Linked DNA regions of Homo sapiens: region 2 is linked to region 1. Evidence: fine-mapped expression QTL. A gene starts in region 1. The other region holds a variant in brackets. All regions are shown on one strand. Distances are between the middles of the regions.

Region 1 (5,377 bases):
TCTCTATTATGCCATTTCATATTTAAGAAGTGACCACTAAAGGCCAACACTCATCTTACATCCTGCCAATGTTGGTAAAGTTTAGTAAAGTCTTTATGAGACCTAACTTTTTCTTCAATTAAAAAAAGTGAGTTAGAAAACTTATTATCGCTACTTCAAATCCAAAAAAGGAATGCAAATACAATATTCATTCCTTAAATAATCTTAACTTTCAAGGTCAAAATAACTCTCCAAAAAAATGACTGTGCTAATATGCTTTTCAAACACAAATAAGAAGGGGAGACGGTTTTCAAAACATTTAGGATAAGTATCTTGTGACAGAATTAAGGTAATAATTTTGCAACACATTTTAAAAATTGCTAAGGTCGTTTAAATGGGGAGGGACACTACAAAACTCATAAAGATAACAGAATTCTGCCGCAATTCTTACATCAAAGTGTAACCCACCTCACTCCCCAGTACTCTTAATAATTAATGTACAAAGAATGGCAAAATAAGACATGTTGATCTAGGTTTAAAAACACAGCCTACACAAGACAACCAAATCAATAGTTATTTAATCATCTGTACCGTCTGATTCTGCTTTAAGTCAATTAGATCAATAGTGCTATTTCTTGAAAGTTACAAGCATAGGTATGCGCAGCCTTTCACTCCAGTGCGTTTAGTCATAAATTGCTCCAGTGTCTTTGCAAGTTTTTGGTGACACATACTTACCGCTCTTTGTACTACAGATAAAGGTAATGGAGGTCAATTAGTATACAAAGGATAGATGAAAGCAAAAAATGAGAAAGGAATTTAAAATGAAAGCAAAATCTTACTCAAGAAACTATCTAGTAGGTTACCTAGACGGTTAGTAATACTTATCTACAAACACTGAATAAGAATACCGTTTTATCGTATTACAGTACAAATAAACTAGAATTGACAGCAAAAGGTTTCATTAACGTATTTTTAAACCAAACATTATTCCAAATGTCTAATCGCTGCATCTAGATGAAATTTTTGTTAGGAGAACCATTTTAAGTGGAAATGTAGAGCAAGCTCCCATGAAGTGAACGAGATCCTTCATGCGGATAAACACCACCTAACATTCTAACTGAATACTGGTTCTGGATTTAAGTGGAATTGACAAACTCGCCCCCCGCCCCTACCTGTAGAAAGCAACATAAGCAAGTACTAGTAAATACAGCGAAGCATTTTGCTGTTTTACACCTGAACATTTAAAAAAAAATTCAGTTTCCTGCCTATCACAAAGGAAAAAATAAATGATCGATAAGAATTTAAACTTAAAACGTAAGCACAAACCCATCTATATGCCTATCTTGCTCTATCTCAAAATATTTGAATTCCCATTTATTAAGCGATGGCCAAATCCGAATTTCTATCACATGGTAGAAGTATAAGCGTCTCCCCTACAACTTTTTCGGGATTTTACTAAACGGCCTAATAACAGTTTGCCCTTACTTCCGTGCACCTTTCAACCTCAGCTACACCCCGAGCCTCCAGCTCTCTTGCATTTCTAATAACGCTGAAGAGGGAGGGTGAGAGGGAGTATTTCTGTGTGGATAAGTGCGCGCGCGCTCCCGCGCGGCTCCCCACCCCCACCCCGATACTTTTCTTTAGTGGAAAGAGAGGAAGAATCTGGAGGTTATTCTAGCGAAAACTCAGTATCAAAGCCTCAACCCAGTCGCAGTCAGCCCATAGGACTCTGGGCTCTGGATGCGCAGTGCAACTTCTCATATCTTACTCCAAGCTTCAAAGCAGATGGAAAATTGGTGAAGAGAACCCAGGGAGGAGTCGAGGAGATGAGGGAAAGTGAAAGGGCCGATCCCCCCTACAAGGCGTTTAAGTTTGCAACCGAGACTGTGTTTCCGCGAATCTGCACCCGCCCCGTGTACCCTTTCCAGGTGGAACTCGTTAACAGCAGCAACCCGGCCAACGGACACCGCCACCTCCCCTCTCGACGGACCACCCGAGACTCGAGCAAGTGAGGCGGCGGGCGAGAGCGGACGCCTGGCGGGGCCGGCGATCCCCGGCCAGCATCAGGCCTCCGCCGACCCTGGCCCCGTCACCTGTGGAGAAAGCACCCCCTCCCCCGGCCTCTCTGCCCTTCACGCCGAACGTATCCCTAACGCTGCAGCTGCTGCCCGCCCGGCCTGCGAAAACCGAGCGCAGCGCCAGGCTCCCCTCGGCGGCCGCGGGGCCCCAGCCCCTTCAACTGGTTACAACCGGCAGCGGCGACCGAGCGGGGCAGCTAGCCGCAGGAGGGTCCCCGTCCGGGAGGGGGCAGGCAGGCTTGGAGGAGCGGGGTCCGCAAGGTCCTACCTAACAACGTCGGTCTCCTCCGTCTCCTCCTCAACGGCAGCGGCCCCGGCGGTGGCGGCGGCAGCGACATTCCTGGGGACCGCTCCCGCCGCCGCCGCCTCCTCCTCCACTCTCCGCTCGCCTCTCTTCCTCGGCGCGCTCACCGAGCGGCGCGTCCCTTCAGCCACCTCCCCCCGCCCTCCCCGACACACACGCCCCGAAACCCTGAGCCCCACGGCTCCCGCAGCCAGCTCACCCACCCTCCCTCCCTCCCTCCCCGCCACCAGCGGCGGCCCGTCCCTCCCCCCTTCCCCAGCGCCCGCCGCCGCGCCGGGCTCAGTAATGGCGGCCACTCGGGCTCCCTCGCGCTGACGGATTTCTCTCCCTCTCTCCCGAACTTTACCTCAGCATCTCTCCCGGCGCGCGCAGCCACACACCCGACCGGGGGCGGAGCGGCGGCGCGGCGGCGCAGCCTGGACGGGACGCGCGCGCGCGCGCGAACCCGCGCTGCCCTCCCCACAATCCCCCGTCCCCGCCCCTTCACCTCGCGACGCCTCCCGCGCCGCGCACCCGGCACGGCCCCGCCCCTGCCCTCGTCTCCCGGGAGCCTGGGAAGGCGCGAGCTATCCAGTCGGAGGGAGGGGGACGAGCGCGCGGGGCCGCGTCCTCGCTCGCGTCCCCGCTCCCTCCTCCCCTCTGCTTCTCCCTCCCCTCCACTCCCCCATTGGCTTCTACCCCTCCCCCTTCTTCCTCCGCCTCTCCCACCATTGGTTCCCTCCCCTACTCCATTCCTTCTCACCTTTTCCCTTTTACCCATTGGCGTGAGTATTTTTCCTCAGCTTCCCTCTTTCTCCGTATTCTGCTCCTCCTCAGTCCCATCCTCCACGCTTTGGAAGCTACTGCCTTACTGCCCGGAGCGCCGTCGTCCCCGAACCTCCCCTGCTTCTCCCTTTCCTTCTGTTCCGGTTTCTGGTCGTAACTCAAGAGCAAACCACCGTACTGCAAAGGAACCAGATATTGTGCTCGCGGTTCCAAACCGGGCATGGGCACCGAATGCTTCTCGATAAATCCCCTTATGGTCTCTGAGCATTAAAGAAAGCAAGGGAGGAAAACATGCGCCCAAGCTCGTTCGCAGGAACATGTTCGCGTGTCTGCGCCTGTGTGCGCAGCCAGTTTTCTGGCTGAGGATCGCTCGCCAACTACAGACATCACCCGCCCAGGACCCGGTGCCACACTCACCCAGAAGACGAAACTCCACAGGAGCGAGAAGAGGAGTCCATTTCTCCGTCGGCTCGGCACGGCACGGGGATGCAGGCCCCTGATTCAGTACGTTCTGTGAAAGTGGAGCGAGAAGCCAAGACGTGGATCGAGAAGCCCCGTGGGGCGGGTCTCAGGGTGGCCCAAAAGACCCCTGTTCACGCCACTACCAGCCTAACTTTAGGAACTGTCGTCCACCTGGCTTTTATTATACTGCCTTAAACATATTCACTTTTTTGAGACTCTAGAAATTTCACAAGTTTTGGGGTAGAGCACACTGGGCTTTGGGTGTGTTTCTCATGAGGGCACTGACGCTGAATGGTGCAGTGAGAAAGGACGGTAGAAACCACTGCCTTTGCTTTTACCATTGAAGAAACTGAGGTCCTGTGACTTTCCCGAGGTCATCGGAATCTGCCTTGCACAGGAGACTTAAAATAGTTGCCAGCAGATAAAAGAATGAGCAAAACCACATCTACTCCAATTTGTTAAGTCTGAAAGAAAGTAATTGAGGGGGGATTCCTCTTTGGGGAAATATTTATTTCCTGCATTGAAAATAGTTTAATGTTAGTAAACATATAAAAAGTATTTTAAATTCAAGTTATTCTTTATTTCTTATGTTACATAAGGTACTGAAGTTAGCCAAGGTTGCTTTTGTGTTATAATGATGCAGCTGCTGCCAACCAGAAGTACATTTACGGTCTGTCAGTAAAGAAAACAAAAACTGCCTGTTGGTAAAAATCTATTAGAAAATATTTGTCAGTAAATTTGTCACAATATTCCAGCAGAAGTTCTGTTCGTTTTTCCGTCTTCCTGCCCTTCATATTTCTCAAAGGTAGACTTAATAAAGGTAGAAGAGACATTTCTAATTTTTCTATATATCTCTTGCTCCCTAATTTCTAAAAGGCATAACTAAAATGCTTTATTCGAGCCACTCCCTTGCATCTGAACCCTACCTACCAAGTAGGTTAAGAGTAGGTTAGGTAAGGTCTGTAGCTACTTCTTTCTTTCAGTTACAAATTGTAGGTGGGAAAGAAGGATGCGGAAGGAAACTTGCAAGGAAAGCAAACAGAAAGAAAAAGAAGTAAAAAAGGAGAGAAGGGAATTTGGTGGGTGGTCCAACCATCAAAATGTGGTACTAATGCCATAGGTATCTACACCACTTATGTAAGTTGGAATGTTGATGCATTCCAACGCATGTTTTTATCTTTGTACTGAAAGCCCTTAAGAATACCCGAAGTAAACATATAAAAAGTATTTTAAGTTCAAGTTATTCTTTATTTCTTATGTTACGTAAGGTACTGAAGTTAGCCAAGGTTGCTTTTTAGTGTTATAATGATGCAGTTCAAAGTCATAACCTGAATAAGATGTTAAGTACTATAGAGTGTACACCCTAAAGATACCTTAAAAATTATGTCCTAAATAATCAGAAATTTTAATAATCATGGACATGTATCAACATAAACCAAAGCCAAATAAATCAGGGCTTCTAAAGAAAACGTTAAAAAGGTGTAATGTTCAGTTATAGGACATGATACTGGAGGCAGGGAAGACTTGAAATCTCATTTATTTTCTTATAATGAAGACACCAGAAGACGTTAAAAAAAAAAAAAAGATCACGATTTCCAAACAATGATTTTCATAGTCGACATTATTTTCAGTTCTTTATCTTGATTTAGGGAGCCTGGAAATTTAGGACTTCGTTTCTTATTAATACTAATAGTCTAAAGGTGTTTACCAGTACAAATAAGTTATTGTATGTAATTTGCTCTTCTCAAAAAATAGAGTTTTCTGTATCAATAAAAATCTGAAATGGGGG
Region 2 (5,377 bases), 130 kb after region 1:
CATGCATTCACTCACATTTCTCCTCCCAACCCACCACTCTAACTGTCTTTCTTTTAGCACAACTGTTGTAAATACATGATCCCCAGAACAGCAGCATCGCATCACCTGGGAACTCATTAGAAATGCAGATTACCAGGTACCATCCAGAAACTCTGAATCAGAAACTGTGCCCAGCAATCTATGCTTTAACAAGACCCTCCCCACGAGGACATTATTCTGATGAATTCTAATGTTTGAGAACCAGGGTCTTAGGGCACTGTTTCTGAAACTTTGTAGTGTATTAAAATCATGTGGGGTGCTTTAAAAAATTCCAATGCCCAGGCCACACCCCAGGTCAAGTAAATCAGGTTCTGTGGGGGTAGAACCCAGGCATCGGATGGATGTTTGGAAAACTCTCCACTGATTCCAATGTGCAGTCACAGTTGAGCCCCATTGCCTAAGGGTAAAGAACTCAAGAATATTAGTCGGCCATTTTCCCTATGGTGGAGAGCCTGTAGCTTTGAGCCCCGTAGAGAGAAGCCTTCCTGTGGGAGGAGAAAACAGTGTGTAAAATGAAGAAAGGGGCCAAACTGGGCATGCCTAAGCTTCGAAGGCCTCTTTCATTATAGGCTAGCTGCTGTAATGAAACAGGCAATTGCACCTGAGATTTTTCTGAAGTTGAAATGACCACGTGGAAAGGGAACAGCTTCTCTCCACAGTCCATCAAGAGGGGAGTGGCCAATGGGCCGCTTGGAGGACAAAGACCAGGGACACGCCCATTATCTGAGGCTTCAGGTATATTAAAATGAAGAAATCCCCAAATAGGGTTTCAAAAATTGTGATATACTATATTTTAGAAGTTTACATTTAATAAATTAAGGCTTTAACACGTGTAAGCTTTAAAAAAAAAACGCACAGGGTAATATAACCATCCTATTCACGGGATAATGGCAGGATTAATCTTAAAAATTCATGGGCCTGGTACCAAAATCAGGCATAAGTTTAAAGCTGATGATCATTTCCATCTTTTCAGTCTTATTAGCATATCTTCAGAGATAAATTTTTAAAAATCCAAATGTGAAGTCTCTGTGAGTGTGAGATCCCTGGATGAAAGGCCCTCCTTTGCCATGCCCCTGGGGCAGACTAAGAGGACCGCTGGAAAGAGATCCTAAGTGTGGCCCTGGAGCAGCTGTGAATGATTAGGTTGTGGGAAGACAACTGACATCTGGGTGCCTTGCGGCAGCCTGACCAGGGAGGTGGTGTCAGGGAAGCCAGAGCACCCCCCTTCCTCAGTGTGTTCCAGAGCAGTACAATACCTGCCTCCCTACACATAATGGATGCCTGCCCACCACCCTCTGTCCTCAGGCACACTTGGCTGCTGACAACAGGAAGTGAAACAGCCACACCCTCCTTTGACCCTATTAAGGTAACTCCTAGTTTGATACAGAGGCTTCCGGGGAGGGAAAGAAATAAGGGAGACACTTACCTTGTGCAGCACCTGCAGTGCTGTTGGTTTATAAAAGCACGAAATCTTCTGTCCCAGAGGCTGGACTGGGCTCATGACTGCATGTGAGATTGTGCTTTGGGAAGAGAAAGCAATCCCAGACTGAACAACAATTTTCTGGTGGCAGGTGCATCCATGAGGAGCTGCAGTCGGTCCCAGCAGCATATGCTTTCTCCTCTGGGAGGGCAACTCGGAGACGTGCAGACTAACGGGACCACTGGCTGCAAGCCTCAGAAACCTCTCAGGAGGTCCCTGGCAAGGCCTGTGGTATCTGGGCAGTGCAGGCAGCCTGGGCACCATAGGACAAAGGGGCGGGGAGTGGGGCAGGGAAGAAACAGCACAGAGGAAACAGCACACCTTGTTCTCATTGACTCGGAGTCAATGGCTGCCCACAGACTCTATTTCCTGGAGATTCAAGCCTCACACTGTCCTGTCCTCTCCCCTGAGTAAGTCTTCCAGAGAGTAAGAGCCACACCCAGGCAGAGGTGGGTGAGGCTGGGGTTCAAAGTACAGAGCCAGCCCTTTTATCTCATAGGCAGAGGAAATCATCCACTGTAAACCCACAGCGTCCTCCACCAGGGCAGCGTTTGATTCCTC[C/T]GTCTCATATCTCCGCTTGCCTTCCCTGTGGGTCAGTAGTTCCTGAGTTTCTCTAGCCTATAGAAAACATGAGGAGGAGGAGGAGAGATGGAGGGGGAGGAGGAGGAGAAGAGAAGGGAAGAATGAGCACATGGACTGCCCAGCCCCAGCCCCATGGCACCAGCATGGTAAACACTTGGAGGGAGGCCAGCCGTCTGGCGCCTCCAGTCTTCCACATCACCCCAGCCAAGATTCAGACCTGTATATTCTGGGCTCTTTCTGCCCCATTTCACCCAGGCTTTAAATTACCCAGACTTGGGTCTGGGTTATTCTATCCAAAACTTTCCTCTGAAATCTAGATTGTGATGCAATGTATACGTTCTCTAAATCAGATTTCTGAGGACTAAATGCCAGACCGCGTGGCGTAGCAGTCTGGCTGCAAACCATTTCCGTCAGCCCAGCGGAGGAACGCACAACAAGGTGCTCATCCCCGCAGCCGTGCACAGGAGACAGCAACGGTCCAGGTAAATTAGAAAGGCCTAACTTGAGCCAGCTAGTCATGGCAATTTAGGGAAAGTAAGGACTACACAGAGGCTCTGGGACGGCTTGCGGAATCAATGCCTAAGTTGCTGGATTGCTCCTTCTTTGGCTATGGAGCTAGTGGTTCCAAAATCTACCCCTTGATTCCTTAAGATGGAAGACCATTTAGACAAGCTGAGCCAAAACCCAGAGTCTTGGAACAAGCCTGTAACAATAATAGCAGCAGTAATGACAATGATTTTTAATATTCCTTGCTTAACAAGTGCTGGCCACAGTTCATGTTTTACATGGATTTACTTGGGGAATTTGATCGCTGGATCGAGGTGAGGACCATCCTCACTCCTCAGCTCCCCGGAGGACAGTCCCTTCCCCTCTGCTAGTCCTTTGACACAGACCCATTTTGACTTTTCAACTTCAACATTCTAGTTCAAGTCTTGGCCAGCTGTCAGCCTGGGCTTGTTTCTTCTCATCACAAGAAAAGAAACAGGGCTGCGAAGAGTAGCAAGCCCCTGACTGCTGCCCTTAAATGAGCTAGCCTTTAGGAGAAACACCCGAAGGTCAGGAGGCAAGCACTGTTTGCTCATGGCTATTGTTCCTCTGGGGAGCTGTGAGGGTGGGGTGAGTGGGGGAGGGTCTCTCATTTTGTGACTACACAGTATATAAAAAGCTGAAATGAAAATAATTCAGAAATTATTGTTGTCTTTATAAAACAACCTGTTCTGGGGTACCTTTCTGTACTTCCCTAAGTATATTTAAAACACAATTTTAAAATTCAATTTAACAAAGCCCCATCAAGACACATGCACTGCATCGTGCACATCTGTATAAATGCTCTTAAAGTGCAGGTTTGCATGAACCTTATTTTTCTAGAGGAGTGTGTCCTCTTGGGGAAAGAGGGAAAGAAGGCAGTAAAAATAGCATCGTGTCGCTGCTGACTGTGCATTGGCCACACAGCTAAGCACAGAGTGCCTAGAGAGCTTTGGCAGGATCATCACATGTTGTCCTCACAACAGACCCATGAGGGAGGTATCTCATCCCAATTTACAGATGAAGAAACTGAGGCTCAGGAAGATCAAGTGACGTCTTCATTATCACACAGCCATTAAGAGCTGAGCTTGGTGGGAACTCAGGCTTCCGCGACTCTAAAGACTAGAACTACAGACAAGCTGCAAAGCAAGATCAGGTCAAGATATTCTCCAAAGTTATATCCCGTGGCTCCTCAGTTACAGATGTGATTGCAGAATCCTGCCACTTCTTTTCTTTTTGGTCTCCTTGTTTTCTCAATCCAGTCAGAATGAATTTTAGATGTGTCCCAAGTGCAGTCTGCCTTCAGCCGCCGAGCCACTCAGACACTTGGAGCTAGCCCAAGTAGCCCAAGTAGTAGGTCTGTGAATAAACGTCACTTCTGGAATCATTCTTCAACAAGTACAACTTGACTAGAGAGACTCAAATACCTGCACTGGTCCCAAAGAGCCATCACCCAGTGCTGCCAAGTCTGACCAAGATGCATCCTAGCTAAGGAACCAGTCACACCACTGGCTCTCACGCCATGCCTGAGAGGAGCACAACAGGAGTTTCTCCAGGAAGCTTCCCAACGTTCAGATGAGTTGCTCTCCATGTGGATTCAGCATCCTGACGAGCTGACACCAATTCCAGGCCTGGCATGTCTAACAAATGCAGCATTCAAGCCCAAGACACTGAAATTGTTACCTCATGTTATAAAGGACCTGAAGCTGCATGCAATTAGCACTGCATCTGTGAGACTTGGGAAAGACAACTGAGAGAACAGGGTCTTAAAAAGACTATTTTGGTCCATATGGAAAATTGGTGTGTTGCATGCATGGTAAAATCCTTTCAGATATATTTTTAAACCTTATGTTTTTAAAACTGGGGACTTAAATATTATTATAGGAAAAGCAGCATGATTCCTTTAACATCAGAAGGAGATCTGTAAGTTAAAAAACTGTTGGAACCTTGTAAAGAAATTAACATTGTGAATGAACTCAGGCATTAGTGCAAATTAATCAAACTGCATACATTATAATTTTTAATCAGTCATGGAATTTCAATACTTGAAGGGACCTTGGAAATCATCTGTCCCAAGAGCAAGAATTATGGAAGATAAATGGGCAGGTGGAGAAAAACCTCCTGGCTAGAGAAAGGCACAGAAAAAACAAAGAGTTGGGAGACAGCATGCACAGTGGTTTGAAAGCTCAGGGATTTGCACACACAGCCTGGGTTCGAAGCTCAGCTTTGCTTTTTGATGGCAGTATGAACCAGGCTGAGTTGTTTGACCCTCCTATGTGACAGTTTATAAACAAAAGGTTATTCTGAGTCTTAAGAGAGACCATCCATAGAAAGGGCTTAGTATGGTCCCTGGGATACCATATGGTGCCTGGGACATCAGTGCTGAGTAAATATTAGCTCTATAGAAAAAGGAATTTTACAAACATAATCTGAGTGAGCCAGACTGACACACTATGTATAACTGTGGTCTTTCTCTTTTATTTGGCTATGAAAGAAAAGCAAAATGCAGTATATTGAAGCATTCAGATTTCTGACCATGAGAACAGGACATAATACCCAAGGTCTTTTTTGGAATAAAAAATGATCTTCATAAAAGGGAATCACATTTCAGCTGTAAATAAAGTCAGACCTAATAATCAAGAAAAGAGGGCCCCATGGAGATGGTGAATCACGTATATGAGTAGGTGAAAGCTGCCTCCAAAGGTCTTGATGCAAAGCTGTCCAAGGTTTAGAACTCTGGGCACATTTCTG

Evidence for each region.
Region 2: its variant is fine-mapped to the expression of ARHGAP5 in whole blood (INTERVAL, PIP 0.91).

Annotation. Positions count from the first base shown.
Region 1 is chr14:32,074,384-32,079,760 of GRCh38, reverse strand. ARHGAP5 (Rho GTPase activating protein 5) reads right to left here and starts at 2,457. Exons shown (of 7, transcript NM_001030055.2): 1 at 2,326-2,457. ARHGAP5-AS1 (ARHGAP5 antisense RNA 1 (head to head)) reads left to right here and starts at 3,062. Exons shown (of 1, transcript NR_027263.1): 1 at 3,062-4,342. RefSeq lists silencers at 2,104-2,398, 2,197-2,416, 2,777-3,036.
Region 2 is chr14:31,941,197-31,946,573 of GRCh38, reverse strand. LINC02313 (long intergenic non-protein coding RNA 2313) reads right to left here and starts at 1,721. Exons shown (of 2, transcript NR_146544.1): 1 at 1,466-1,721. RefSeq lists an enhancer at 1,240-2,439. The variant C/T (reference allele first, on the strand shown) is at 2,081.